Homo sapiens: one gene and its partners. The protein of the gene in region 2 purifies or fractionates together with the protein of the main gene of each other region. This does not show direct contact. Each region holds a gene or a part of one and is shown on either strand. Other genes may lie near its edges.

Evidence for each region.
Region 1: the proteins of GOT2 (region 2) and FAH fractionate together in Homo sapiens (co-fractionation; one large-scale study listed by BioGRID). This does not show direct contact.
Region 3: the proteins of GOT2 (region 2) and MB fractionate together in Homo sapiens (co-fractionation; one large-scale study listed by BioGRID). This does not show direct contact.
Region 4: the proteins of GOT2 (region 2) and LYPLAL1 fractionate together in Homo sapiens (co-fractionation; one large-scale study listed by BioGRID). This does not show direct contact.
Region 5: the proteins of GOT2 (region 2) and MYDGF fractionate together in Homo sapiens (co-fractionation; one large-scale study listed by BioGRID). This does not show direct contact.
Region 6: the proteins of GOT2 (region 2) and NQO1 fractionate together in Homo sapiens (co-fractionation; one large-scale study listed by BioGRID). This does not show direct contact.
Region 7: the proteins of GOT2 (region 2) and METTL6 purify together in Homo sapiens (pull-down; one large-scale study listed by IntAct). This does not show direct contact.

Annotation. Positions count from the first base shown.
Region 1 is NC_000015.10:80,169,545-80,173,767, reverse strand, and holds part of FAH (fumarylacetoacetase), read right to left. Parts: intron 1,620-4,223; coding exon 1,520-1,619; intron 755-1,519; coding exon 624-754; intron 1-623.
Region 2 is NC_000016.10:58,713,399-58,717,621, forward strand, and holds part of GOT2 (aspartate aminotransferase, mitochondrial isoform 1 precursor), read right to left. Parts: intron 3,416-4,223; coding exon 3,265-3,415; intron 2,782-3,264; coding exon 2,616-2,781; intron 1-2,615. UniProt on the Homo sapiens protein: Catalyzes the irreversible transamination of the L-tryptophan metabolite L-kynurenine to form kynurenic acid (KA). As a member of the malate-aspartate shuttle, it has a key role in the intracellular NAD(H) redox balance.
Region 3 is NC_000022.11:35,610,284-35,614,506, forward strand, and holds part of MB (myoglobin), read right to left. Parts: intron 824-4,223; coding exon 601-823; intron 1-600. UniProt on the Homo sapiens protein: Monomeric heme protein which primary function is to store oxygen and facilitate its diffusion within muscle tissues.
Region 4 is NC_000001.11:219,176,548-219,180,445, reverse strand, and holds part of LYPLAL1 (lysophospholipase-like protein 1), read right to left. Parts: intron 1,300-3,898; coding exon 1,200-1,299; intron 1,047-1,199; coding exon of another isoform or gene 1,020-1,046; intron 1-1,019.
Region 5 is NC_000019.10:4,659,955-4,664,177, forward strand, and holds part of MYDGF (myeloid-derived growth factor precursor), read right to left. Parts: intron 2,125-4,223; coding exon of another isoform or gene 1,767-2,124; exon of another isoform or gene 1,752-1,766; intron 797-1,751; coding exon 715-796; intron 50-714; coding exon 1-49. UniProt on the Homo sapiens protein: Bone marrow-derived monocyte and paracrine-acting protein that promotes cardiac myocyte survival and adaptive angiogenesis for cardiac protection and/or repair after myocardial infarction (MI).
Region 6 is NC_000016.10:69,716,037-69,720,259, reverse strand, and holds part of NQO1 (NAD(P)H dehydrogenase [quinone] 1), read left to right. Parts: intron 1-1,725; coding exon 1,726-1,890; intron 1,891-2,006; coding exon 2,007-2,137; intron 2,138-4,223. UniProt on the Homo sapiens protein: Flavin-containing quinone reductase that catalyzes two-electron reduction of quinones to hydroquinones using either NADH or NADPH as electron donors.
Region 7 is NC_000003.12:15,417,537-15,421,759, forward strand, and holds part of METTL6 (tRNA N(3)-cytidine methyltransferase METTL6), read right to left. Parts: intron 1-4,223. UniProt on the Homo sapiens protein: S-adenosyl-L-methionine-dependent methyltransferase that mediates N(3)-methylcytidine modification of residue 32 of the tRNA anticodon loop of tRNA(Ser), including tRNA(Ser)(UGA) and tRNA(Ser)(GCU).

The DNA of each region.
Region 1 (4,223 bases), on a different chromosome or scaffold from region 2:
CCAACAAGAGTGAGGGGCCACAGGAAGTCCATGCTGAAGGGGACACAAGGTCATGACACTGACTATCGGGTCACAGGTGACTCTGGCCAGGTGTTGCCAGTGATGGAGTGGGGCAGATTGCAACAGGCTGAGAAGGGAGGACTGGAACCAGGGGTCAAGGCCTAGACCCAGTGGTAGACCAAGCGGTGCCGGGAACCAGAGGCTGCAGGGACTCCCTGTTGCTGGGCTCCAAGCTGCATTCTATGAGTTGGGGTCCAGGTGGCGCCATTTGCACAGAACAAGATTTGATGGCCACCTGGGAGGTTGTGCAATGTTGGTACCTGCAGGGACTCCTCCTGCCAACTGGCCAGATCCCCCGGGTCTTGCAAGATTCTTAAGGTTACAAAATTCTGTGTTTTCTCCAAGAACTGTGCCAGGGCCAGGGAAACCACAAGGGAGAATGATGCCCTGGCTGCCTGGAAGTAATCGTGGCCAGGAACTCCCAGGCACTCTGCTGTGGGCATGCCGTGGGCACAGAGCTTCCCTCCTGATGGTCTGCATGCCTGGCATGTCCACTCAGTGGGCAAGCAGCCTCAGAGGCAGCAGGGCTGGGTTTGGGAGCTTCCTGCAGAGAATGTGCTTACCTGCTTCGGGTTGGGCACAGCAAAGGGCATGAGAGCATCCATGGGCACCACCCACGGAGAGACAGTGGTCCCAAAACTCTTCCCAAGGAATGGCCCGAGAGGGACATACTCCCACTTCTGAATGTCTCGTGCTGCAGAAGAAGGGCACAGCCAGGACTTACAAAGGCTGATCAGGGCATCTCCCAACGACCCCCTCCTGCCCTTGACCAAGGAGCAGAGACACCTAGCACTGCCATCTCCACAAAGATCAGCCCCAGTCAGGCTGCCCCAGGACAAAGGGGCAAGAGCATTCAATGCCAAGGACAGAGGTCCTTTGAGGGCACTGTGCCAGGTTACAGCAAAGAGAAGGATGACCAAACGGTGGTCAGGATATCTCCCAGGAAGGGGCTGGAAGCTCATTCTCAAACTATGAGAGAGACACTTTCTGGGGCTTATGGTGCCATCTTCCTCCCACGTATGGCAAAGGGTTGAGAGCTCAGGCTCAGAAGCTGGACTGTTTTGCTTCAAATCTTAGTTCAGCAACTAACTGAAATCTCCCTGTGCCTCAGTTCCTCATCTGTAAAATGGGAAGATAATATTGCACATACCGTGTAGGGATCAGCGGGAGAATATACGAAGGGTGTTAAGCACAGGGCCTGACACATAAGTGCTCAGTAAATATTAGTTATGATGTCAGCCGTGTCCCTAGCCACTCGAGAAAATTGGAGCTCAGAGGAGTTAAGTGAGTGGCCCGAGTTCTTAGAGCTGAAAGTCTGTTTGATACCCAGACCCCCACTCTCAGTCACTGCATCACCTGCCACTTTTGACCTGCACCAGATCTTCAGCTTCTATGAAATTGCCCCAAGTCCCCAGCCTCCTCCCCGTCATCTCTACAGGAGCAGAGCTCCAGTAATTACCACTCCAGTCGTTCATAAGGACCATTCCAAAAATGTGCTCATGGGCCTTGGAAATGGGGATCGGCTCTCCCAATCTGTTTCCAGGGCCTACAAAAAAAGCCTTACATGGGGGAGAGTTCATTAGAATCTGGAGCTGATCTGCCGCCCAGGTCACTTGTCACCTAGAGAGCAAAGGTCAGGTATTTCCAAACTCCAGCCATGGACCAGGACTGCCACAGGGGCCTGGCATGAATCCACTGTGTTTCTAAGTCAGAGGTCAGATGGACGCCTCAGGAAAGCAGAGTGCAGTGGTGTGCCCTGCCCCCGCCATCGGCCTTCCTTCCACTCCCCTGAGCTCCAAAGCAGCCTCCCCTCCCTTCAGTGCATCCCAGGCCACTCTGCTCTTTCCTCTTCATCCCATACAGCCTTTGCCTTTCAAGACTTGACAGCCACATGAGGCTTGTAAAACTGAAACTATCAGGGTTTGTATTCATGTCATGAAAAACCAGGCCAGGCACTGTGGCTCACGTCTATAATCTCAGCACTTTGGGAGGCTGAGGTGGAAGGATCACTTGAGCCTCGGAGTTTGAGACAAGCCTGAGCAACATAGTGAGACCCCACCTCTACAAAAAATAAACAAAATTAGCCAGGCATGGTGGCACATGTCCGCAGTCCCAGCTACTTGGGAGGCTTATGTGGGAAGATTGCTTGAGCCAGGGAGGTCAAGGCTGCAGCAGGCCGAGATCACGCCACGGCACTCCAGCCTGGGTGACAGAGCAAGACCCTGTCTCAAAAAATAAAAAAATAAAATAAATAAAAATTTTCATTGCTCAATTCCCACCTATGAGTGAGAACATGCAGTGTTTGGTTTTTTGTCCTTGCAATAGTTTGCTGAGAATGATGGTTTCCAGTTTCATCCATGTCCCTACAAAGGACATGAACTCATCATTTTTTATGGCTGCATAGTATTCCATGGTGTATATGTGCCACATTTTCTTAATCCAGTCTGTTGTGGGGTGGGGGGAAGAGGGAGGGATAGCATTAGGAGATATACCTAATGCTAAATGACGACTTAATGGGTGCAGCACGCCAACATGGCACATGTATACATATGTAACAAACCTGCACGTTGTGCACATGTACCCTAAAACTTAAAGTATAATAATAATAAAATTTAAAAATAAAAATAAAAAATAAAAAATAAATTTTTTTAATGAAAAATGAAAAACCAAAAGACTGCCTCCTTCATGCAGCAAATAGTACCAGAGAGAGCACACCCCACGGCCTCTAACCCCTATCTGTCATCCCACTACCTCTAAAGAAAAACAGCACCAACGTGATGTCCATGAACCAGCAGACTAGCCAGGCATCATTAGAAAGAAAAATTTGGGAAAATCTCTTTGAAAAACATAGACTCAGCCATGACATTTGCAAAACTTAGTCACCATTTTATTTGTTCTGTGACAATAGTTAAACATTGCAAATTTTTCATCAAGATGAAAAAAAGAACCCAAAAGCACTAGTCCAGGTGACCTGGGCTCTCTGCCCCAACCATTTCTCCACATGCTGACTCTCTGTCTTTTCTCTCTCCCTCTCAACAGGTGAAGTGTCTGCCTGCAGAGTCCTTAGTTCTCCCAGAGAGAAGACCATGGCCCCAAACCAGGGCTCAGATGCCCTGCTCTGATGAATCTCAGCTGGGGGTCCTCCTCCCGCAGTCTCACATAGTACCCTTGCTAAGGCAGGAGGAGGCAGAGGGCTGGCAGGGAATGCCCTGCTATCCACGGGCTATTCGGCAGTGCCCACTCATTTCCCTCCTCTGGACTGAATCCAGAGAAATCACAGGGAAGCCCAGGAGAGACAGGGAGCTCCAGAAAAGCAGACGGGCCTTTCAGCCTGCCTCCACCAACCAGGGCTTCCCACTGTCTCAGCCTGACTCGGTGGCCCCATGACAGCTTCTTCTACACCATCAGTGATGAGGCACTCAGAGCTTCCTGAGGCAACGCCTAAAACTGTAGGTGCTGACTATGGGAAAGCCCCCTCCATCTGCCTGTCTGCATTTCCCACACGGAGACTGACTCCAACCTTGGGCATCAGACAACCCAGCAGATGCTGAAGACCCTGCCAGGTCCCCGGAGCGCTGCCTCCCCCAGGTCAGCTCCTCCTTTCCATCACTTCCCTGGTCCCCTCACCTTGGGGGCTGCCCAGATTTCAGTGTCCCCTCTGAAAAATGGGCAGCATGAGGGATCCTCAGGTGGTGGGACCGACTGTATCAACATCAACATCCAGGTTGTGATAGAGCACCATGGTTACGAAGGATGTTGCCACTGGGGGAGACTGTGTGAAGGGTATTGGGATCTCTGTACTATTTCTCACAACTGCATGTGAGTCTACAATGACCTCAAAATAAAAAGTTTAATTTAAAAAAGTGTGCAGCCCTGGCCGAGCGCGGTGGCTCATGCCTGTAATCCAAGCACTTTGGGAGGCCGAGGCAGGTGGATCACGAGGTCAGGAGATCGAGACCATCCTGGCTAACATGGTGAAACCCTGTCTCTACTAAAAATACAAAAAATTAGCCAGGCATGGTGGAAGGTGCCTGTGGTCCCAGCTATTCGGGAGGCTGAGGCAGGAGAATGGTGTGAACCCAGGAGGCGGAGCTTGCAGTGAGCCGAGATAGTGCCACTGCACTCCAGCCTGGGTGACAGAGTGAGACTCCATCTCAGAAAAA
Region 2 (4,223 bases):
AAGGCTGAGGTGGGAGGATGACTTGAGCCCAGGAGTTTGAGACTGGCCTGGACAACACAGTGAGACCTTGTCTTTATAAAAAATCAAAAGGAAAAAACAAAACAAAACAAAACAAAAAACAAAAAAAACTATCCTGAACCAGACTCTTAGTATTTACTTTAATCTTCATGGGACAGAGAGACAGAAAAAATAGTTGTCACATGATGACTAGGGGAGGTACATATCAAGTTTCTTAGAGATAGCAGATTTAGCTTTTCTACCCAAGAGCTGCTCAGAGATGTGACCTCTCAACTAAGCAGCTCATATAACAAATATACGATAAACTCATATAACAAATCACACCTTCCACAGGCATCATGGTTTTATGAACTCATAGAGTAGGGGTTGGCATTCTTTCTGTAAATGGCCAAACAGTAATTATTTTAGGCTTTATAGGCCATATGGTCTCTGCCTTCTACAACTGCTCACTCGGCCATGGCAGCAAAGAAGTAGCTATACAAAATTCATAAACAAATGGGTACAGCTGTGTTCCAATAAAACTTTATTTACAAGAATAGGGGGCAAACTGGATTGACTCTCAGAACAGTTTGCCAACCCCTTTCTACAGCAGTGTTTTCTAAATTATGTGTCATGACCCATTGGTAGGTTAATTTTTTTATTTTTTATTTTTTTATTTTCTTTTATTTTAATAGAGACACAGTCTTGCTATGTTGCCCAGGCTGGTCTCCAACTCCTGGGTTCAAGGGATCCACCTGCCTTGGCCTCCCAAAATGCATGCTGGGATTATAGGTGTGAGCCACCTTACCTGGCTTAGTATGTTAAATTCAACTTAGTAAGATGCAGTTGGCATTTAGAAAATATTGGAGTGGAGGCTGGGCTTGGTGGCTCACGCCTGTAATCCTAGCACTTTGGGAGGCCGAGGCAGGTGGTTCACTTGATGCCAGGAGTTTGAGAACAGCCTGGCCAACATGGCGAAACCCCGTCTCTACTAAAAATACAAAAAATTAGCCGGGCGTAGTGGCGGGCGCCTGTAGTCCCAGGTACTTGGGAGGCTGAGGCAGGAGAATGGCGTGAACCCGGGAGGCGGAGCTTGCAGTGAGCCGAGATCCCGCCACTGCACTCCAGCCTGGGCGACAGAGCGAGACTCCGTCTCAAAAAAAAAAAAAAAAATTAGCTGGGTCTCGTTGTGCACACCTGTGATCCCAGCTACTCGGGAGGCTGAGGCACGAGAATTGCTAGAGCCTAGGAGGTGGAGGTTGCAGTGATTGTGCCACTGCACTCTAGCCTGGGTGACACAGCAAGACTGTTTAAAAAAAAACAAAAAACAAAACAAAACAAAAAACTCGAGTAAAGCACATGAAGCCTTTAGTATTGAGTCTGGAAGACAGTTTCAGTTATATACACATATAAGTATATAATATGTTCAAGGTCATGATGTAAAATATATATTTTTAAAATTTTATAGATGGGGTTTCAGTATGTTGCCCAGGCTTGTCTCAAACGATCTTTCCACCTCAGCCTCCCAAAGTGTTGGGATTACAGGTGTGAGCCACTGTGCCCAGACTTAAATATATTTCTTATGTGGATTGTGGTCAAAAAAATTTAGTAACACTAATTCAGAGAACAGATGTTGAGAGTCAGATAGTACAGATAATAAAAAACAAGCTGAGTGCAGTGGCTCACACCTGCAATCCCAGCACTTAGGGAGTCTGTGGTGGGAGGATCATTTGAGCCCAGGAGTTTGAGGAGACCAGCCTGGGCAAGACAGCAAGACCCTGTCTCTACAATAAAATACAAACATATGCAAAAATACGGATTCAATGCTAGCAATTATTAGGACACAAACAAAAATATGATGTTTTTAAGGAAGTTTTCCTATGTAAGGTACTTAATTTGAAACTGATTTTAGGGGAAAGCAGGTTCTACTTAACACGGAGATGACGGAATAAAAGGAACTACCATTTAAAAATTATGACTGCCTCTTACAGAGAAATATCAATTAACTTGGTTCAAAGTGCTAACAAATACTCGGGAGGCTGAGGCTGGAGGACTGCTTGAGGCCAGGAGTACAAAGTTACAGTGAGTTAGGATTGCAACACTGCACTCCAGACTGGGTGACAGAGCAAGACCCTGTCTCAACCAATCTATCTATCTATCTATATATATAGATTGAGACGGAGTTTTGCTCTTGTTGCCCAGGCTGGAGTGCAATGGCGCAATCTCGGCTCACTGCAGCCTTCGCCTCCCAGGTTCAAGTAATTCTCCTGCCTCATCCTCCCGAGTAGCTGGGATTACAGGCATGCACCACCACATCCGGCTAATTTTGTATTTTCAGTAGAGACGGGGTTTCTCCATGTTGGTCAGGCTGGTCTCGAACTCCCGACCTCAGGTGATCCACCTGCCTCGGCCTCCCAAAGTGCTGCGATTACAGGCGTGAGCCACTGTGCCCGGCCTTAATTTTTTAAAAAAGGAATGCACATTTTTTGCTTCCTTCCCTGCCTTCCACATATGGAATCTATGGGGTACTGTATATCACTAGAGGTCAATTAAAAACTAACTTTGAAGGAGCAGTGGTGGGAACAGGTAGGTGGCTGGGGAGTGGCATAAACCTTTACCATTGTTTTCGCAAATCTGGGGTGTTCAGAATGGCAGCAGCAATCCGGGCCCCATTGAGGGGAGGGTTGGAATACATGGGACGGATCAAGATCTTCAACTGTGACTCTACCCTTTTGGCTTCATCCGCATCTTTGCAGACCATAGTGAAGGCTCCTACACGCTCACCTGAAAGACAAAAATGGATCTCGTCTTCTACTTCTACTATCTAATGTGCTAAAGCAAATCATGAGTGTATTTGCTACGTATTATCTGTTTCCATCCAAAGGACCCCAAAATAACTTTATTATAAATAAAAAGCTTTCAACAACCAGAGTGGTGAACTGAGGCACAAGGAAGTTTTGAGTACTCAGAGTATTCAAAGGTATTTTTTATTGTATCTATCTTCTTGGCTCACGGATTTGTTACTTTTTGTTTAGAGAAGCAGTAATCAGTTTCCTTTGCTGGAAAAACTTAAGGACACCGAAGAATATATGGCTAAGAAAATCAGTAAAATCTACGATACTGGTCTTTCATCTTAGGGTAGGGAGGGACATGGACATGGATGGACACACACACACACACACACACACACACACCCACAAGCTCTATGCCCTCGTGGCATTCTCTCCCAGCATGAGAGCATGTGTCATGCTGGATGCTGTAGCTTACCATATAAGCCCATGTTCTTGGCATATGATTGGCAGAGGCAAACATTAATGCCCTGTTCGATGAAGTGGCGCACAGCCCAGGCATCCTTATCACCATCACCACTGGCAAAGCCTTGGTAGGCCATGTCAAAGAACGCAAAGAGATTCCTTTTCTGAGAAGGAACGAAAGATCGAAGCTTTAGCAGTCTTTCTGAAGAGGCCCCAGATGTTTATAAAAGTCTGAAAGATGTTTATGTGAGGTGGGCATGGTCCCAATAAGCACAATAAGCCTTTTCTGGGGCTAACGTAATCCTGGAAGACTCAACTTATACCCAGGACTCACGAGACAACATCATTAGAACCATTTTATCTTGAAAGTGCTCTCCAAATGCTGTTTCTGTCTCATTCTGTTTGCAGCTTAGATTTGACAGAAGTTAAAGAAAGGGAAACTGGCCAGGCATGGTGGCCCATGTCTATAATCCCAGCACTTTGGGAGGCCAAGGTGGGAGGATCACTTGAGCCCAGGAGTTTGAGATCAGCCTGGGCAACAAAGTGAGATGCTGTCTCTGTGAAAAATAGGAAGAATTAGCCAGGCAGGTGTGGCACACATGTCTGTAGTCCCAGCTACTCAGGGGCTGAGGTAGGAGGATTGTTTGAGCCCTGGAGGTAGAGGCTGCTGTGAGCTGTGACTGTGCCACTGCGTTCTGGCTTAAGGCGACAGAGTGAGACTCTGTCTCAAAAGAAAAAAAAAGAGAGAGAGAGAAAAGAAAGGGAAATGAAAAGGAGTGAAAAGGGAAAACAGGGACATGAGACAACAGGAATAACATTTTCCTCCCTAGGAATTTTGACTAGTGTCTTCTCTGACAGCTGGCTACACTTTGAGAGTGATCATGGCAATGCTGCAAAGGAGAGGACATGAAAAAGTGTTTAAAAAGATCAATAAGCAACCACTGACCAGGGCGAATATAGGCATCAACAGCA
Region 3 (4,223 bases), on a different chromosome or scaffold from region 2:
TTGCTTGTGCTGGAAACCGAGGTCCTGTCTCTTCATCTGTGAAGATGCTGGAACCAATAGAGCCAACCTGCTGGTCACCCCCACCCCAAATTGAGCCCCACTTGCTGAGCTCCTGCCACATAAGTCCTGCATGTACCAGACTCCCAGTGGCACAGCAGTTAGGGGCTGGGGTTCTGTAGTAATAGAGACCTGCGTTTGAATCTTGGCTCTGCCATTATCCACCTCCTGTGACCGTGGACAAGCTGCTTAACCTCTGTGAGCCTCAGTTTCCCCATCTATCAAGTGGATATGATAATGGTACCTACCCATGGAGAGGATGCAAATTTTGCACCCAATATCCCCTCTCCCTTTCCTCTTTGGTAATAAGATGTGAATTTGGCATACTAAATTAAAAATGCTAAGTGTGTTCATTCTCAACAATCCCAGGAGGAAGGCAAAGTGGGTGGCAGTCCCCTTTACAAATGAGAAACCTGGGGCACAGAGAAGAGTGGCATAGGTCATCCCACAAGTTAGTGGCTGAGCTTGGACTCGAACCCAGATCCCATTGCCCCACCCGAGGCCTTCCCCGCATCCTCCCACCTGCCCAGGCTCTGCTCCTACCTCCAGGTACTTCACGGGGATCTTGTGCTTGGTGGCATGCGACTGTGCCAGGGGCTTAATCTCTGCCTCATGATGCCCCTTCTTCTTAAGGATGCCACCCAGGGCGGTGAGCACGGTGGCACCATGCTTCTTTAAGTCCTCAGACGCCTTCATCTCGTCCTCTGACTTCAGGTGCTTGAACTTGTCAAACTTCTCCAGAGTCTCTGGGTGACCCTTAAAGAGCCTGTGGGCACAGGGAAGGCTGGAGTCGGCATGGGAGGTGCGGTGTGAGGTCTGGGGGCAGCCAGACTAGAGTTCAAGTTTAGCTCCCTGTCTTCCCAGCTGTGTGACCTTGGGCCATTCACTTCACCTCTCTGTGCCTCAGCTTCCTCATATAAGGGATGGGGATAACTTGTCCCTACTTGAAGGATTAAGTGAGATAGTGTGTGCTATGTACCAACAGGGTGTCTGGCACATAGTGAGTGTCATATAATTCCCATTTTACAGATGTGGAAACCGAGGTTCTGAGGCGTAAAGTCACCAGCTCACTATTGCAGGGGTGCTGTCCAGAGAAGCCAGGCTGGAATGAGGTCTGAGTGACCAAAACAGCAGTTCTAGTCCACGCTGCGACCATCTCTGCAGCTTCCTGCCCAGGGATTGTCCTTCAGCTGCTTAAATACCTCTAGCTACAGGAGGCTCACTCCTACCTGTGAGGGCCATTCCACTCCAGAGCAATCCTCACACTCAGAAACCTCTTGCTTGTTTTGAGCCCAAGCTGTGACTCTCTGAACCTCCCAGTCCCCTCACTGTGCAGATGACGAAGGGTCCTGGTGGGAGCAACTCAACCCAGCCCTGAGACAGGCACCCACTCCTGCCAGGCACTCAGTGAGGTGCCCCAGAGGCCTCTGCTGGGACTCTGAGCAGCCACCTCCAGCTTTAGACCTCGGTCCTTCCTGCCCACCTCCAACTTTAGACCTTGGTCCTTCCTGCCCACCTCCAGCTTTAGACCTCAGTCCTTCCTGCCCACCTCCAGCTTTAGACCTCAGTCCTTCCTGCTGTGAGCAGGTGGGTGCTGGTTAAAGGGAGTCAGACCTGCCCTCTGGGTAGGAGTGAGTTTCCGCCTTTTACTCATGGAAGACCACAGAGATAAGTGGCCAAGGTCACTTGGCTAGCTAGCGGCAGAGCCCAGACCTAAACCCAAAATGGAACAGTTTCATAACTCCCACCCTTTCCCTTGTGCCACAGCTGAAATGTTTGGCACGGGCAACCCTGTCTGCCCAGGGCTCTCTCTCCTGTCTAATGGTTTCAGTTCCTTGAAAAGCTCCTCTTTTATGATACCCAGGCTCTGTGACATCCTTGTAAAAGTACACAGTATGTATTGTGGCCACACTCCAGTTTGCGCCCTGAGCCACCATGCCCAGAAGTTGTCACAAGGAAGCACCTGATCCCCGTAGTCTCCATCCCAGGGTTTTATGAGGAGGGTATTTCACAACCAGGATGCTGAGCTCCTCAACCTGAAAATGAGTTCATGGTTTTTTTGTTTTTTGTTTTTCTTTTTTGAGATGGAATCTGGCTCTGTTGCCCAGGCTGGAGTGCAGTGGTGCAATCTCTGCTCACCGCAACCTCCACCTCCTGGGTTTGAGCAATTCTCAGAATTCTCCATGTTAGGCAGGATGGTCTCGATCTCCTGACCTTGTGATCCGCCTGCCTCAGCCTCCCAAAGTGCTGGGATTACAGGCGCCCAGCCATATTAACTGATTTTAAAATCCTGATGGGGTAGACGCCATTTTGCAGAGGAAGAAACAGAGGCACCGAAAGACTAACTAGCTGGGGATTTAACCCAGGCAGTCTGGCTTCATGTCTATACTCTTGATGACTATTCGGACTTTGTTATTGTTACACAGAGATATTTACAGGCAAACTGATACCTACATGGACATGTATCAACACCTCACACGTGTACATGCATGCAGGCTCTCACAGATGTGTGTGCACACTCACATATGGGCCTGCACACTCACACAGAGGTACACATAAATATATCCCAGCACACGCCATACTCACCTGCACACACACACAGAGACACGCACAAGCCTGAACCACATACACTCCCTTCCCCCATGTTGGGCATGGTCTGCCGCCGTGCCCAACATTGCCACCTCGCTCCAGGACCTTATCCAAATCCTCGTGCGTCACTGACGGCTTGTCTCTGACACCTTTCATCCAAGGGTCCCTGAGCTCCTGACTATTATTATCTGGCGACAATGATCCTTGAACTCCCGCCTGACAGATGCAAGACCTGGCATGCACAGGCGATGGTCAGAGGTCAGGACGCTGAAAGCAGACTGTCTGAGGCAGAGCAGGGCCAAGAATTTGGGCCACAAGGCAGCTGGGGGTCTCAGACATTTTGGGGCCTGCCCCTGCCCTCTGATATCTAGGGAAGAGAACATGGGACTGACAGTTACGGAAGCTGAGTTCCGGTCCCAGTTCTGGCGCCAATGTGCTCTGTGATGTTGAAGTCACTTAGCCTCTCTGGATCATTGCTCATCCATATGTAAACCAAAAGGGTCTAGACCCGCCAATGCCTTTCTTTCCACTCAACACCAGACAGCCAGGGAGAGAGCTCATATTTACTTTATTAATATTTTTTTGAGACACGGTATTGCTCTGTTGCCCAGGCTGGAGTGCAGTGGTGTGATCTTGGCTCACTGGAGCCTCAATCTCCTGGGCCCAAGTGATCCTCCTACCTCAGCCTCCCGCGTAGCTGGGACTACAGGCACACACCACCACGCCCAGCTAATTTTGTTTATTTTTTGTAGAGAAGGGGGGTCTCACTATGTGGCTCAGGCTGGTCTCGAACTCCTGGACTCAAGCGATTCCCCGATCCTGCCTCCCAAAGTGCTGGGATTATAGGCCTGAGCCACCCCACCCCACCCCATATTTACTTTAAACAGCAGAGCAGAATCGGGCTAATTTGTCTCCCCGCAAGATCATTCCGGCACCACACAGCTGCCTGCCTCCTGTGGGCCCAGGCCTTGCAGCTAGGAGCCCCCCAGGCAGCCACAGAAGGCCATTCTCCTGGATTTGCCTGATCCGGAAAATGAACAGATGAAAGCCCCTCAGCCTGTGGAAATGGACGGAGGGCGTTTGCTCTAGTATTTCAGAAAGCCCCGCTGGCCTGTGTTTCCAGCTTCAACCCTGCTGTCAGTGGGCCTGGTTCATCAGACAGATCTTCAGTCCAAGTCAGAGAGAAGGGAGGCCATTTTCCTGCTGTTCTCTGAACTGAGGCCCAATTGGACACTCACATGGAACATGGAGCACATTGTCAGATCCATGAACACCCCTCTGGCTCTACTAGAATAAAAGAACCAGAGCGTGGGTGGCAGCCCGTCTTGCGTGTGGCAAGGTCATGGGGCAGTATAGCATAGTGGTCAAGAGCAAGGATTCTGGGCCGGGCTCATTGGCTTGTAATCCCAGCACTTTGGGAGGCCAAGGCGGGCAGATCACCTGAGGTCAGGAGTTCGAGACCAGCCTGGCCAACATGGCGAAACCTAGTCTCTACTAAAAATACAAAAATTAGCCAGGCATGGTGGCATGCACCTGTAATCCCAGCAAGACTCCATCTCAAAAAAAAAAAAAAGGAG
Region 4 (3,898 bases), on a different chromosome or scaffold from region 2:
CTCCCTTTTTCAATTCTATCAATTAAAGTAAGTAAATTCTTATTAGTACATATAAAAACGTCCTTGAAGTTCTGGTTTTATTTCTCCTTAATACTAAGTTAATGAAAATATAAAGCAAGGCATTTGCATAGTATGCCTGATAAGAAAAAAATCAAGAACAGGCCAGGTGCAGTGCCTCATGCCTGTAATTCCAGCACTTTTGGGAGGCCGCGGTGAGTGGATCACCTCAGGTCAACAGTTCCAGACCAGCCTAGCCAACATGGCAAAACCTTGTCTTTAAAATTAGCTGGGCGTGGTGTCACATGCCTGTATTCTCAGCTAGGCAGGAGGCTGAGGCAGGAGAATCCTTTGAACTTGGGAGGCAAAGGCTGCTGTGGGCCAAGACTGCACCACTGCACTCCAGCCTAGGCAACAGAGTGAGACTCTGTCTGGAAAAAATAAAAAAAGAAGAAGAAAAAGAAACAAAAAAAAATCAAGAACAGATTATGAGAAAAATCAGATTGGGGCGTAGCTCCACACATCATTTCACTTAACCAAAAAAAAATCCCAATCCCTGATTTACGGCATGTGTTCCGAATAAAAGACTATGCAGATGTTAATTTAATATTTACAAAGAGTAGTTTGACCTCAAAACTATAGCAGTTTTATTACTGTGAATTTTTTGCACACACCTACAGGTTATATAACCTAAATATTTATTAAGTAGTCAATTCTATCTTCCTATTCTGGTTTACTGATTAAAAAAGCATAACATTGTTTCTTGATAATCCTTTTAAATGTGGAAAGAATGCCATAAAACCCTTTCCCAGAGATTATGAATTCTGGCTTAACTAAATTATTAGAAAGATTATACTTGTTGGAGTTATTAAGTTTCCTTTTGGGGTGAATGTAGGGAAGAAGTATGAAAGTTGAGCAATCTGCAGGGCAAGAGGAAGCAGAGTTACATAAGCCATGCTTGGGACACAGTTTAAATTCAGAGCTTTAGGGAATGCTTTACAGAAAGGGAATAAATTACTCACCTGGCAAAACTTGGTCCAACAGTGTAACTGCAATAAAGAATACATTCTGGGGACAAAGTACTCTAATTTAAAGTATGTTAAATACAAAATTAAGCTTAAAGAACACCTAGCTGGCACATCTCTCTATATATATTTTATGCCACAGAGTTATATTGACAAGTGAGATAAATTACTGCATACCTGGGAGGAGCTGTTGGATAAATAATTTTTATGTGTTGGAATGTTAAATCTTGATTTAAAACCTGCTTGATCCACATTCTTAATCCTTGTCCAGAATCACCTGATGAATCAAAAAATCTAGATTAAAATAAATATTTTAGTAATACAATGCATTTCAAAGCAGTCTAAAACTTTTATGTCACACAGAGGATGGAATAAAGGATTTAAAAAAGCTCCATACATCATAATAACCATATAGAAACTGACTTACTAATATGAATTAACTAACTAGGTCTCAATAACTAGCAATAATTTTGATTATTTTACTCCTGGCTTCACCATTGATTACTCTGAAGATCTTGTTTAAGCTTAAGTTTTAAGTTACCTAATTTGTTTAGTGGGTAGTACAGGAATAAATAAATAAATTGATTTTTCTAAAAAAAATTTTATTTCTGTATTTATATGTGACTTTTAATAGTCATTTCTTATCATATTCTTAATAGTAATAAATTCCTAAAGTGACTGTTAAACTTCTGTAGTTAGAAGAACCTAATTTTCTTGGTTAAAAAAAGTCCAAAATGTGTGTTCAGTGTAATTTTATTTTAACTTGAAAAAATCATAATTTAATTTTGACAACATGTTTACATGACCTAAAAGAAGAATTATCTACTCCAAAGCTGGTAAGTAATAAAAAGCCATATAAATATTAATGTATATGTATTTACAGAAAAAAATGGAAGGAAATATAAGTCCATCTTATGGAGTCCTGAGGAGGAAATTAAGGTCACAACTTTAATTTTTTAATCAATTAACTCATTAAGGTATCAGTTCAAAAACTGCCTATTGAATCCCTGTTAATGTGTCAAGCACTGTGTTCACTGCTAGAGAGGCAATGATGGTGGGGTGAGGGAGGAATAGAGTCCCTATTCTCATGGAGTGTGTAGCATATTGTGAAAAACAGAAATTAGTCAAAAAATCACACAAATAAATGTGAAAGGCAAATGTACCTGCTTCAAAAATGAGACACTTGGTGTTGCAAATATTTATTTTATTCACAACTGACTGGGTTTATGGAGTTCAACAATAAATGCACTAGCCTATAAACTCTGCAAGAGGAAGTTTATGATGTATTTTATCTGAGTTATTTGTTCACATAGTGCCTAGAACAGGACTGACAAAAACTGGGTATCCAAATATAGTTGCTGAATGGTTTGAACTAAAGTCTACAGGATGGTGAGAAGTGCAGGGCAGAAGAAAAAAGTATCCCAGGGCGAGGAAAGGGCAGGTGCCAGGATTCTGGATAAGAGGGAGCAGTATGACATGTAAGAACTGAAAAGCAGAGAATGAAAAGAGCAGTGTCTATAAAATGAGACCAGAGAAACTGTAGGAACGTGACAAATCTGTTCATGAAGAAGTCATGAATATTTCTGACAGAAAGGTTGGCATGATTCTAAAGGATCAATCTGGAAGCTGTGTCAAGACAGAATTGAAAGAGAGCAAAAGTAGATGTACAGAGATCAGTTAGGAAACTACTGTTCATGCTTAGACTACAGCGATGATGTAGATAGAAACAGATACTAGAGAAATTTAGGTGGTAAAATTAATAGAGATTGGCAACGGATTTGTTATAAAGGGTCAACAGTAAAAGGTCTCATGGATGACTAACAGGCTTTTGGCCGGAGTAACTGGGTGAACAATACTAGACACCTGCCTAGACAGGAAACATAAGCAACAGGCATACACAGGTTGAGTGTGAGGTGCCTCTTTGTAATGCATACAAGGTCTTATACCATGGGTTGATTGAGCAACTATGGACAGCTAGAGGGGAGGACAAAATCCAGCCTAGGGTCCTTAAGGAGGATAAGCTAAGAATGAGTTTTACATTATTAAAGACTCCTTTCTCAAAAAGAGAGAGAAGGGAAAACTATGGGGAAGAGACCTTACATGGCCCACAAAAGCTAAAATGCTTACCTGACTTTTTGCAGAAAGTTTGCCAACCCCTGCCCTACACTACCTGGATGCCAGTACCCTCTTGGATATCCCTTCCTATTCTTCTCACTCCAGACACACTAGCCTTACTGCTGTTCCTTGAACATGTCAAGGACCCTACCCTGGAGCCTCCGACTTGGCTTTAAAGCCAAGTCTAAGTCTAGCTGTGAAGTTTCATCTTCTGTCATCTTTGCAGTGAGGCATAACCTGACTACTTTATTTAAAATTGTAACACTGTTCCAACTTCTCATCCATGGAAGAATCCCCTTATCCTGCTTTCCTTGTTTCCATAAAACTTACTACCTTCTACTATAGTATTTATTTACTTCATTAGAACATAAGCTCCATGAGAGCAGTGATTTGTTTTTTTCATTGCTGTATGATCAGAGCACAGAACAGTGCCTTACACATGGAGGCTGTGATATATTTCTTGAATGAATGGATTCATGAATGAATGTCTATCAGGCAGTTAGATGAACTTGTCTAGAGCTCAAAAATAGAATCTATGAATCTCCACAGAAATTCAAAGGTTCTATTTTTACCTATACACCAGTGACACAAATGGGTATCTCTAGGAGACTTCTGTGATTAGCCTAGGGAGAAAAATGTAGAGTGAAAAGACCTTGGACCAAATTTAGAGAAACCCCATCATTAATGGCCAGGTAGAGGAGGATGAGTCTGCAAAAGAAACCAGAAGGAGCAAATCAAGACAGAAAAAGAACCAGGAGAGT
Region 5 (4,223 bases), on a different chromosome or scaffold from region 2:
CCTCAGTTTTCAGAGGGACATCACTTTCCCTTTCAAATGCGGCTTTAGACTGAAAAAGAATGAGTGGAAACTTTACCAGGGCCAGTTCAATGCTCATCATTAGGAAAACGATTGAGTTTGCTTTCCAGAGAAGCACAGACTAAAGCTTTCTACTTTTACTAGAGATGGAGAGGAGACTTTTTTGTTTTTGAGCCAGGACCTCACTCTACTGTCCAGGCTGGAATGCAGCAGTGCAATCATAGCTCACTGCAGCTTCAAAGTCCTGGACTCAAGTGATCCTCCTGCTGCGGCCTCCTGAGTAGGTGGGACTATGGGTGCATGCCAACACGCCTGGCTATTTTTTTTTTACTTTTGGTAGATATAGGGTCTTGCTATGTTGCCTAGGCTGGAATCAAATTCCTGGCCTCCAGCAATCCTCCTGCCTCAGCCTCCCAAATTGCTGGGATTACTGGCGTGAACCGCCGCGCCTGGCCTGGAGAAGTCTTTTCTGGCATATACAAGAGAAGCCAGCAGCAACAGGTTACCAAACCCCCGTGCCCCTGGCCTGGGGGCGTCTGTGTGCCAGGTTCCTGCAAGTTACACACCCTACCTCTGCAGGATTCGCTGTCCCCTCTCCTCCCTGTCCCCATGGAGCCCTCTTGTGGCAGGACATCTCACAGCTGCCCCAGTGCACAGAAGCCACACCCGGAGCCTGCCCCACTCCAAGATACTCACGTAGGCCATGGCGTACTCAATCTCAGCGCCCCGCACCTCTGCCTTGAACTGTGTGAAGTACAGATAGGACTTCCCCTGGGGCCTGCAGAGGAAGAGGGGGCGAGGGAGTCAGGCCAGGCCTGCTGGGTCTGGGTCTGTGTGCCCTGGAAGGAGCCCCGCCAGGGACTCGGGCTGGGGTCAGCAGGTCTCGTGCCTGCTTCTCAACATGGACGCCATTCCCGAGCACGAGCACCTGCTGACTGGGAAGGATGGATGGGGCCCTCTCAACAGCAGACCCTCTTTCTTTTGTGCCAGAATTTTTTTTTTTTTTTTTTTTTGGAGACGAGTCTCACTCTGTTGCCCAGGCTGGATGGCAATGGCACAATCTCACTCACTGCAGCCTCTGCCTCCTGGGTTTAAGTGATTCTCCTGCCTTAGCCTCCCTTGTAGCTGGGAGTACAGGCACCCGCGACCACATCTGACTAATTTTGGTATTTTTAGTAAAAACATGGTTTCACCATGTTGGCCAGCCTGGCCTGAACCCCTGACCTCAAGTGATCCACTCGCCTCAGCCTCCCAGAGGGCTGTGATTAGAGGTGTGAGCCACTGTGCCTGGCCCCTTTGTGCCAGAATGTTCTTCCAGCTCATTCATAGACACGCCTCTCTCCCCTGTGGGCTGGGAGCTGCTCTGGGACAGGACCCCATGTCCATTCACTGCACATGGCTTCTTGGTTGCTGACAGCAATCCAGGTACTACGACGGGGGCTGGGGCTGGGCAATGAGAGGCCAGTAAAGGCTTCTCAGAGGGCATTGACTAGGAAGTACAGGAGTTAACTTAAGAAGTGGGGAGGATCATCTGCCCAGGTCTCTAGAAGGCTGCTAACGGAGGCTTCTAAGGAACTGGAGTGGCAGAAGGTGTCGGAAGGTGACAGCAGGGGATGATGGCATCTCTGGTGTGAAGAGAGTGTGATGGGGATGGAGGGGCAGCAGGGGGGCCATTTCTGTGGAAGCCCTGGCTGGGGTTCTATGTGCATGGGTGGGGCGGGGGTATCCAGGGAGCCCTAGATTCTTCTTTAAGCCCTAGCACTGCCAACAGCCCTGGTCAGGGAGGGTCCAGTCACTGTCTGAGATGAGGAGGCCTGGGGTGGCAGGTCTCCGGGGCTGAGCATGCCCCTGGGGAGCTTTTGTGGGGGTTGGACAGGAGGATTCAGGCTCAAGGTGAGCCCAGCCACCATCCCAACTGCTCCAGACCTGCACCTGCCCAGATGCCCTCTGGGGAGCTGGCACTCAGGGGTCCATGCAGGGCAGTGGCCTGCAGACAGACGATGGCGACCGTGGGCTTCCCCAAGACTACAGGGCGGCCTCTGCAGGGTCTCTCTGGGCTGATGGGGCCTATCTCCTCTCAATGACCCTCCTGATGCCTCCTGGGGCCTTGGCCTGCCTGTGATGCAGCCAGTTCCATGGAGTGGGTGAGAATCTCCCCAGAAACACCTGCTGTTTGTAAAGCGCCCCGCAGGGCACGGCGGGACAACACCCACACGAGGCAGCAAATCACACCCTGTCCTTCAGTTAAACGTCGCCACTCCCTGATCTCTGCCTCCCATTTGTCAACGTGCTTTAACCTGACCGCAGTGGTGGAGCTATAGCTTGGACTTCTCCCTCCAAAGTGTCTGCACAAAATAAAGGCTCAAGAAATACCCACTGTTTGGGCTGAGACATTCTGGGCCAAGGATCAGGGAAGAAGGGACAAGATTCCTGAAGCCCCCGACCCCCTCCCCACCGGGGGGCCTGACGGCTTCCTTCCCTTCATGACCTTGCCCAGATCGAGCTGGGATCTAGGCAGTGGGGTTACGAGAATGAGTGGGGCGAGTGGAGCCGGGATAAGCCCATAAACCATGAGCCTGACAGAGGATGGCGGCAGGGGCAGAATCGGGCGGTGTCTGGGGAGACTTGGGGAGGGGCTGTGGACCCAGATGCATGTGTGTTCGGGCAGGTGGAAGAGAGTGCACAGCTTTTGTCTGATTCCCAGATGTCTGCACCCCAAGAAGGCTATGAGCCATCAGGCTGGTCCTTCAGAGAACATGCTGGTAAAGACCTGCCTGAGGGGAAACAGCTGGGGCCCCTTCTGGTGGGACACATTCCCCGGGAGATAGCATCATCCAAACCTCCACAGCCACTACCCCACAGACTCCCACACCTGCCACCTGCCTAGCTCGTCCCCAGCCCAGACCTGCACCAGCTCCGCCAGTTCCACCAGGACTCTGCCCAGCACCTTCCTCCTCCTCCTACCCCAGCTAGCTGATTCCACAGCCTCCAATCTGTGCCCTCCCCTCCTCCCTGTCCTCATTTTACACAGCCTCCAGTCTGTGCCTTCCCCTCCCACTCCGTCCTCATTCTACAGCCTCCAATCTACTCTCCCCACCCCACTCCATCCTCATTCTACAGCCTCCGATCTACATTCCCCACCCACCTCATCCTCATTCTACAGCCTCCAATCTACCCTCCCCACCCGTCCTGTCCTCATTCTACACAGCCTCCAATCTACCCTCCCCACCCGTCCTGTCCTCATTCTACACAGCCTCCAATCTACCCTCCCCACCCACCCCATCCTCATTCTACAGCCTCCAATCTGTGCCCTCTCCACCCATCCCATCCTCATTCTACACAGCCTCCAATCTACGCTCCCATCCACCCCATCCTCATTCTACAGCATCCAATCTACTCTCCCCACCTACCCCATCCTCATTCTACACAGCCTCCAATCTGTGCCCTCTCCACCCACCCCATCCTCATTCTACACAGCCTCCAATCTACCCTCCCCACCCCATCCTCATTCTACAGCCTCCAACCTGTGCACTCTCCACCCACCCCATCCTCATTCTACACAGCCTCCAATCTATCCTCCCCACCCACCCCACCCTCATTCTACACAGCCTCCAATCTACCCTCCCCACCCACCCCATCCTCATTCTACAGCCTCCAATCTACCCTCCCCACCTCATCCTCATTCTACAGCCTCCAGTATACCCTCCCCACCCACCCTGTCCTCATTCTACACAGTCTCCAATCTGTGCTCTCCCCACCCACCCCATCCTCATTCTACAAAGCCTCCAATCTACCCTCCCCACCCACCCCATCCTCATTCTACACAGCCTCCAATCTGTGCCCTCTCCACCCACCCCATCCTCATTCTGCACAGGCTTCAATCTGCGCCCCACCCCCAACCCCCGACTCCATCCTGGTTGGTGCCTGGAGGGGCTCCCTGCCTCAGCCTGCCTCCTTCAGCCGGGGGGATCTGAGCTCCACATGTTCCTGCAGGGAGCCCTCTGGAATAGGACTCAGCCAGGAAAAGAAATGAGGCTGACACGGGCCTCAGCATGGATGAGCCTTGAGGACGTCACGTTCAGTGAGAGACGCCAGACACCAAAGGCCACACAGGGAAGGTTTGACCCCATTTCTATGCAATGTCCAGGACACGCCCATCCACAGAGACAGGAGGGGGATGCGTGGCTGCCATGTGCTGGGAAGGA
Region 6 (4,223 bases), about 11 Mb from region 2:
AGACAGGGTCTCCCTCTGTCACCCAGGCTGGAGTGCAGTGCGGCGATCACGGATCACTGCAGCCTCAACCTCCTGGGTTCAAGTGATCCTTCCATCTCTCAGCCTCCTGAGTAGTTGGGACTACAGGCATACACCACCATGCCCAGCTAATTTTTGTACGTTTTGTAGAGAAGGGATTTCGCTTTTGTCATGTTGCCCAGGCTGGTCTTGAACTCCTGGGCTCAAGCAATGTTCCCGCCTTGGCCTCCCAAAGTGCTGGAATTAGAAGCGTGAGCAACCGTACCTGGTCAACAGTCTCTAAAAATTTTTTTTTATGACAAGGTGTCACTATGCTGCCCATGCTGGTCTCCATCTCCTGGCCTCAAGGGATCTTGCCGCCTCAGCCTTCCAAGTAGCTGGATTACAGGCTCCAGCCACTGTGCCCAGCCAGTTTAACTCATTCTTTTTTATATATTTTTTACTTTTATCTTAATTTATTTATTTTTCTGAGACAGGGTCTTACTCTGTCACCCAGGCTGGAGTGCAGTGGCAAGATCTCAGCTCACTGCAACCTCTGCTTCCTGGGTTCAAGCGATTCTCCTGCCTCAGGCTCCCGAATAGCTGGGATTACAGGTGCCCGCTACCACACCCAGCTAATTTTTGTATTTTTGTAGAGACAGGGTTTCACCATGTTGGCCAGGATGGTCTTGATCTCTTGACCTCGTGACCTGCCCGCCTCAGCCTCCCAAAGTGCTGGGATTACAGGCTCGAACCACCGTGCCTGGCCAACTCATTCTTGTTAACAGCAAAATATCCTGTAGTGTGGATGTACCCATAATTTCTTAAAATGTTCCCCATAGACAATCAGGTTATATCTAATTTTTGCCAGTGAAAAGCATGGTGTAATACACATCTTTGCTCTTATAGCCTGAAGCTTTTAGTCTGTAGAACAGATTCCCCCAAATTGGAGAGCGAGATAAAAGATTTATGTGTCTTTAAAGTTTCAAGAGATTCTGCCTCATTACTTTCCCTAAAGGTTGAGGCAGTTCTTATCCCCACCAGTAAGGTGCCAATTTTTCTGTTGGTACAATCTTAATAACCCTGGGTGTTATTTGTTTTACATTTTGTGGGTAAATGTAAACTCACGGTAAATGTAAACACAGTACCCATGTAAACGAATGGGTAAATGTCTCATTTTAATTTTGCTTTTCCTGACAGGTCACGCAGAGCATCTTTTTTTTTTTTTGAGACGGAGTCTCCCATTGTCACCCAGGCTGGAGTGCAATGGTGCAATCTTGGCTCACTGCAACCTCCCCCTCCCGAGTTCAAGTGATTCTCCTGCCTCAGCCTCCCAAGTAGCTGGGATTACAGGTGCCTGCCACCACACCCAGCTAATTTTTGTATTTTTAGTAGAGACAGGGTTTCACCATGTTGGCCAGGCTGGTCTCAAACTCCTGACCTCAGGTGATCTGCCCACCTTGGCCTCCCAAAGTGCTGGGATTACAGTTATGAGCCACAGAGCCCAGTTGTCAACATTATTTATTAAATCAGCCACTGATTTAAATGCTTCCTTTAATCTTCAGTGCTTTTAAGGGGAAAATACATTTCTGGCTACAGGAGATGGAATGCAATAACCTAATGTCAAACAAAGCCGCCCCCTCCTTTACAGACTGCAACTCCCCTGTAGCTGAAGGTTTGCTGGTTGGTAATGGGTTTTCCGTGTGTGCTTTGTGTGTGTCTCTGTAGGCAGAAGAGCACTGATCGTACTGGCTCACTCAGAGAGGACGTCCTTCAACTATGCCATGAAGGAGGCTGCTGCAGCGGCTTTGAAGAAGAAAGGATGGGAGGTGGTGGAGTCGGACCTCTATGCCATGAACTTCAATCCCATCATTTCCAGAAAGGACATCACAGGTAGGAGGAGTTCCTCCTCCCCTCTTTAATTAGTTCTTTGCGGATCTCCTTGCCTGTGGGTCCTCTGGCCCAGCTTTGGCCCCTCTGGCCCCAGCCTCTCTTTTTCTTCTCTGCAGGTAAACTGAAGGACCCTGCGAACTTTCAGTATCCTGCCGAGTCTGTTCTGGCTTATAAAGAAGGCCATCTGAGCCCAGATATTGTGGCTGAACAAAAGAAGCTGGAAGCCGCAGACCTTGTGATATTCCAGGTATGGGGGGACATCGGAAGGGGTGTCAGGGACATTTGCGTGCTTATTGTCCTAGACATGTACCTAATTAGCTATGAGATCTTAAACAGTTACCCACTTTACTGCATTCTCTGCAAATAAGGGTGATTACTTTAAAGGTGCAGTATTACATGGATTTCACAGATATTGGGAATCTGGCTGTATTACTGTTGCATGTGTAAATGCAACTGCAAGGCCAGGCACGGTGGCTCACGCCTGTAATCCCAGCACTTTGGGAGGCCAAGGCAGGTGAATCACAAGGTCAAGAGACCAAGACCATCCTGACCAACATGGTGAAACCCTGTCTTTACTAAAAGTACAAAAATTAGCTGGGCGTGGTGGCATGTGCCTGTAGTCCCAGCTACTCTGGAGGCTGAGGCAGGAGAATCACTTGAACCCGGGAGGTGGAGGTTGAAGTGAACCAAGATTGCGCCACTGCACCCCATCCTGGTGACATGGCGACAGAGCGAGATTCTGTCTCAAAAAAAAAAAAAAAAGAAAGAAAGAAATGCAGCTGCAGAGATGATGTACAGTCCTTGAGCTTGCTTTCTTCCAGGTACTTAGTCTCCCCTTCAGTTAGCGATTCCTTCAGTTAGCGATTCCTTCAGTTAGCGAATCCTGCGGTTAGCGATTCCTGTTGGACTCTCTCAAAATTTGCAGTTCTCCTCCTTTCTCCATAAGAATCCCAAATACTTTGTAGAATAATCCATGAGACATTGACTTCTCTGCCATTGTAGCCTGCCAGCTGAAGGGGGCTTTGAAACCCTGCTGAATGTGTTCCTGCAGCAAACCACGGCCTTTCTTCTTCGGGAAGCTGCCTTACCGTTTAGCAGACAATGCTGGGATTGTGCGTGCATCTCGTCAGTGATCTTTCCTATAAATGTGACTGTACTCAATGACTTTGCTTTTACAATTCCAGCCAGTCTTTTGATATTGAACATAGAATGTATATGATCCTGGAAACCACGAGGAGGGTGGTACAGGCTGTGTTTTTTTTTTCTCTCTCTCTCTCTTTTTTTTTTTTAGTTATTCAATCAGCTACAAAACATCCAATCCTTGAAGTCCTTTATTTTACCCACAGGCCTGTTGCTAAGAATCAAAGCCACATGCCACTAGCCAGTACCCCAAAGGACGGCTTTAAAAAAAAATTAAATTGGAGACAAGGTCTCACGGTCACCCAGGATGGAGTGCAGTGGCATGATCTCTGCTCACTGCTGCCTCAACCTCCTGGGCTCAAATGATCCTCCCACCTCAGTCTCCCGAATAGCTGGGACTATCAGTGCACACCACCATGCCCTGCTAATTTTTTAATTTTTTTGTACAAATAGGGTCTCACCATGTTGCCCAGGCTGGTCTCAAACTCTTGGGCTCAAGTGATCTGCCTGCCTGGACCTCCCAAAAGGCTGGGATTATAGGCATGTGCCTTTCATATCTTTAAATCATGAATCAAGGATAAGAAAACCTCCTGGTATAGTCCTTACTCTGCTTTTATTAGGATAAGAGGTCAGACAAGACTTTCTCATGGGAAGTCCCTGATGAACCTTAGTCACCCTAATTATTATTTATTATAATTTTTATTTTTTAACATTTTATTTATTTATTTATTTGTTTTTGAGATGGAGTCTCGCTCTGTTGCCCAGGCTGGAGTGCAATGGTGCAATCTCGGCTCACTGCAACCTCCGCCTCCCGGGTTCAAGCCATTTTCCTGCCTCAGCCTCCCAAGTAGCTGGGACTACAGGCATGCACCACCACGCTTGACTTTTTGTATTTTTAGTAGAAACAGGGTTTCCCCATGTTGGCCAGGCTGGTCTCAAATTCCTGACCTCAAGTGATCCACCCACCTTGGCCTCCAAAAGTGCTAGAATTAAAGGCATGAGCAACTGCACCTAGCCACGTTGATGATGATGATGATTATTATTATTATTATTATTATTATTTAGAGATGGAGTCTTGCTCTGTCACCCAGGCTGGAATACAGTGGTGATCACAGCTCCCTGCAGCCTCCAACTCCTGGGCTCAAGCAATCCTCCTGCCTCAGCCTCTCATATAGCTGGGACTAGAGATGTGC
Region 7 (4,223 bases), on a different chromosome or scaffold from region 2:
ATATTACAAAACGTAGTAATAAAACAACATGGTTTGAGAATGGAGACAAATGTATCACTGAGACAAAACAGAGTCCCAAAACAGACCTGTATATACTGTATATATAAACAGGAATTTTGTATATTATATGATAAAAGATAGACAAAGGTGACAATTAGACAAAAAGGTAGATAATAAAGATGACAATTATGAGTGAGGAAAAAATTTCTCATTCAATTTACTGTGTTTAGAAGAACTGGCTACCCTTGAGACAAATGACTACCCTTGAGACACAGGCCCACGGTACCAGTTCAAATTTGGAGAAGCAGAACATTAGAGAACGACCCCCTCTCCCACACCCCACCATCGAATCTCCAAGAATAACAGGAAATTGCAGCTGGGAGAGCCACAACAGATAGACTCTTTGGGAAACGGTACAAAGGGAAGACCCAAATCCAAGAGAGGAGACAAAAACAAGTTGCTAGAGGGGTTTGAAGTCTCTGGTGCCCACAGCAACAACAAACCTCACAGACAGCAACAACAGACTTCAAACAACAGCCCAATTCCTGACTAGATTGTTACAAATCCCTATCCCTCAGTATCTACTGGCCCTTATAATATGTCTAGCTTTAACCAAAAAGTAGAAAACATCCCAGAAGGCAAAAAACATAGTGTGAAGAGAATAAGCCATCACCAGAGCCAGACTCAAATATGACAGATGCTGGATCCAAAAGCTTGGGCATTTAAAATAATTATGATTAAAATGCTAAAGACTCTAATGGAAAAGACAGACAACATGCAAAATCAGATACATAATTTCAGGGATGGAAACTATAAAAAGACTCTAAGAGAAATGCTAAAAACCAAAAATATGGTAAAAGAAATGAACACTTTCAATAGGTTTCTCAACAAAACAGGTACTGCCTAGGAAACAGTCAGTGAACTTGATGATAGGATAATAGAAATTACACAAACTGAAAATGCAAAAAGGAAAAAAGTGGGGGAATAAACCCTATAACAACAGCATCTAAGGGCTGTGGGGCAATAGAAAATGTTACACACATAACTGGAATCCCAGAGGGAGAAGAGAGAACAAGAGCTAAAGAAAGAATTCAAAGAAATAATGACCCTAATTTTTCCAGATTAAAAAACATAACCAAAATTATAAAATAACTATATAACCAAAAATTAGTAAGAGCAATATATAGGTGATTATGTCTAAATCCTAGGAATAGCTGGGCGCAGTGGCTCACACCTGTAATCCCAGCACTTTGGGAGGCTGAGACAGGAGGATCGCTTGAACCCAAGAGTTCGAGAGCAGCCTGGGATAGTGAGACCTGATCTCTAAGAAAAATAAAGTAAATCCTAGGAGTAAAGGACTCCTAAACAAGACATAAAATAGAACTTCAAAAGGAAAAGATTAATATTTTGCCATGATAATTTAAATCCTGTGTAGCCTGGGCAACACAGCAGGACCTCATCTCTACAAAAAATTTTTAAAAATTAGCCAGGCATGGTGGTGCATGCCCATGGTCCCAGCTCAGGATGCTGAGGATCACTTGAGTCCACAAGGTCGAGGCTGCAGTGAGCTGCAATTTGCACCACTATACTCCAGCCTAGGTGACACAGTGAGACCTTGTCCAAAAATAAAATAAAATAAATCCTTGTGTAAAAAAAAAAGAGATACTGTAAAGCGATGCTGAATAAACTAGAAGAAATGTTTGCAACATACATACCAAAATATCTAGAATATATCCTGAAAATAAGAAAGAAAATGACAAACCAATAGAAAAATGGGCAGAGGTTATGAATGGACAACTCCTACTACAAACTTCATGTGGGTGGGAATTTTTGCCTGTCTGTTCACTGTTTAACTCCAGTGCTTAGAACAGTGACTGGCACACATTAAGCTCTCAATAAACAAATGTGGACTAAATAAACTCACAGCTAACTATTGCTATCAACCTTCCACAAGGCCTTCAACCTCTCTGGTAATAAGGAAAAAACAAATTAAAATATGGAGGCATTATTTTTTGTCCAAAAGATTGGTAAATATAAAAAAGACTGATATCAAGAGTTGAGGCAATACAGAAAAAGGTACCTTTACATTATTGGTGAAATTATAAATTAGTATGAGCTTTTTGGAAGGAAACTTGGCATTGTCTATTAAAATATAAATGAGCATGCTCTTCTTCCAAGGAATTCTGCTTCTTCCATTATTCATCACAGACAAATGTGTACAGACATTTTGGGAACATATATATGATGCTGATCACATTAACCCTATTTGTAAGAGCAAAAAAATAGAAACAATTCAAATAAATATAAATAGGGTAACTGTTTTTCTTTTTTTTTTTTTTTTTTGAGACAGAGTCTCGCTCTATCACCCAGGCTGGAGTGCAGTGGCATGATCTCAGCTCACTGCAAGCTCCGCCTCCCAGGTTCATGCCGTTCTCCTGCCTCAGCCTCCCGAGTAGCTGGGACTACAGGCGCCCGCCACCATGCCCGGCTAATTTTTGTATTTTTAGTAGAGATGGGGTTTCACCATATTAACCAGGATGGTCTCGATCTCCTGACCTCGTGATCTGCCCACCTCGGCCTCTCAAAGTGCTCAGATTACAGGTGTGAGCCACTGCACCAGCCAGGTAACTGTTAAAGTATGCTATATCCATTCCATGGAATATTATAACAGGTAAATAAAATCTACATGTACTAACATGAAAAACTCTGCAAAATATAATAATGTAGAATGAGGAAAGCATGTTATGGTAAATATGATACCACAACTATTTTTAAAAATCTACTGTGTATAAAGTGGACAGACTTAAGTCCTTATTTAAAACATCGAGACTTTCTAGATGTTTAGAAGTGCACAAAGTATGTTAAAAGTAGGGTAGTAAGTAACACATTTTGTAGATATCCTTTTGTTAAAATTCACTGAAATATTACCTTTTGGAAATGTAATGATCAAACCACTTCTCTAAGCAGTACACATCATTACATTTGTACTGCGTCAGGAGAAAAGGAGGAGAATAAAGTGCAAAGGGCTTTATACCAATGTGTTTACAGTGAGGCAAGATTGACCACTGTACCTTATGTCCATGCATTTTATTTTACTTTGCTATGTATATAGTGTATATGAAGGACAAATGAGCCCTAATTTACAACATCTAGTTCTAGATGTTAAAGAGGTTGACAGCGTATGACCAACGTAGAGTCAGTAACCTAATACACTGAGTACATTTTGTGTTCAAATTCATAGGAAAGACTGTTCTTAAAAACACTTAGGGAAGTGAAATTGTTAAAGTCCCCTCTAAGCACTACAAATGCTTATATCTATCCACTGAGTTGACAGGTGGGAAGGGTTCTATGCCAGAATGTTCGTTCCTATTTAGATGACACTTTCAAATGGCAGCTTATTATGTACGTGTAACATTTATTCACGTTTTCAGTTCTTAAGAAGGACTATCCTCTGGGAGTGACCTTTGTTAATTGACCTCTTAGAACTAGACATAGTCCTGTACTTAGTCACTGGAATGACAGAACAGGATAAAGAAGAACGGGTGGAAGGAAGGGCTCTTAGTCAGAATCTCCATATCTAGAAGATGGTTTTAGATGAAAAACCACAGGTCTATAGGTGCATTTTTAGTAAAGTACTTGTGTTTATTGTGGACAGAGTTTATTATTTTGCAACACCTAAGCTTCATAGATGTCTTGATGTGACAACATATAATAATATAATTAGTAAATATCCATAATGTGTGATAAAACACGATACATACTGCGTGATCTTAATCCCATAAAATTGGATACTGTGTCTATGTACACACAGGACCTAGAAGGACAAGTCAAACTGTAAACTGCTTGTGATTGTGGATGACTGTTCTTTGCTTCTTGTGTTTCTCAGTTTCCTACAGTAAACATATTAACTTTTTAAAAATAAAGGGTTTGGGTTTTGTTATTTTGAGATAGGGTCCTGCTTTGTCACCCAGGCTGGAGTACAATGGCATGATCATAGCTCATGCAGCCTCAAACTCCGGGCTCAAGTGATTTTCCCACCTCAGTCTCCCAAACAGCTGCACACGCCACCACACCTGGCTAATTAAAAAAATCTTTTTGGCCAGGTGCGGTGGCTTATGCCTGTAATCCCAACACTTTGGGAGGCCAGTGGATCACCTGAGGTCAGGAGTTCAAGACCAGCCTGTCCAACATAGTGAAACCCTGTCTGTACTAAAAATACAAAA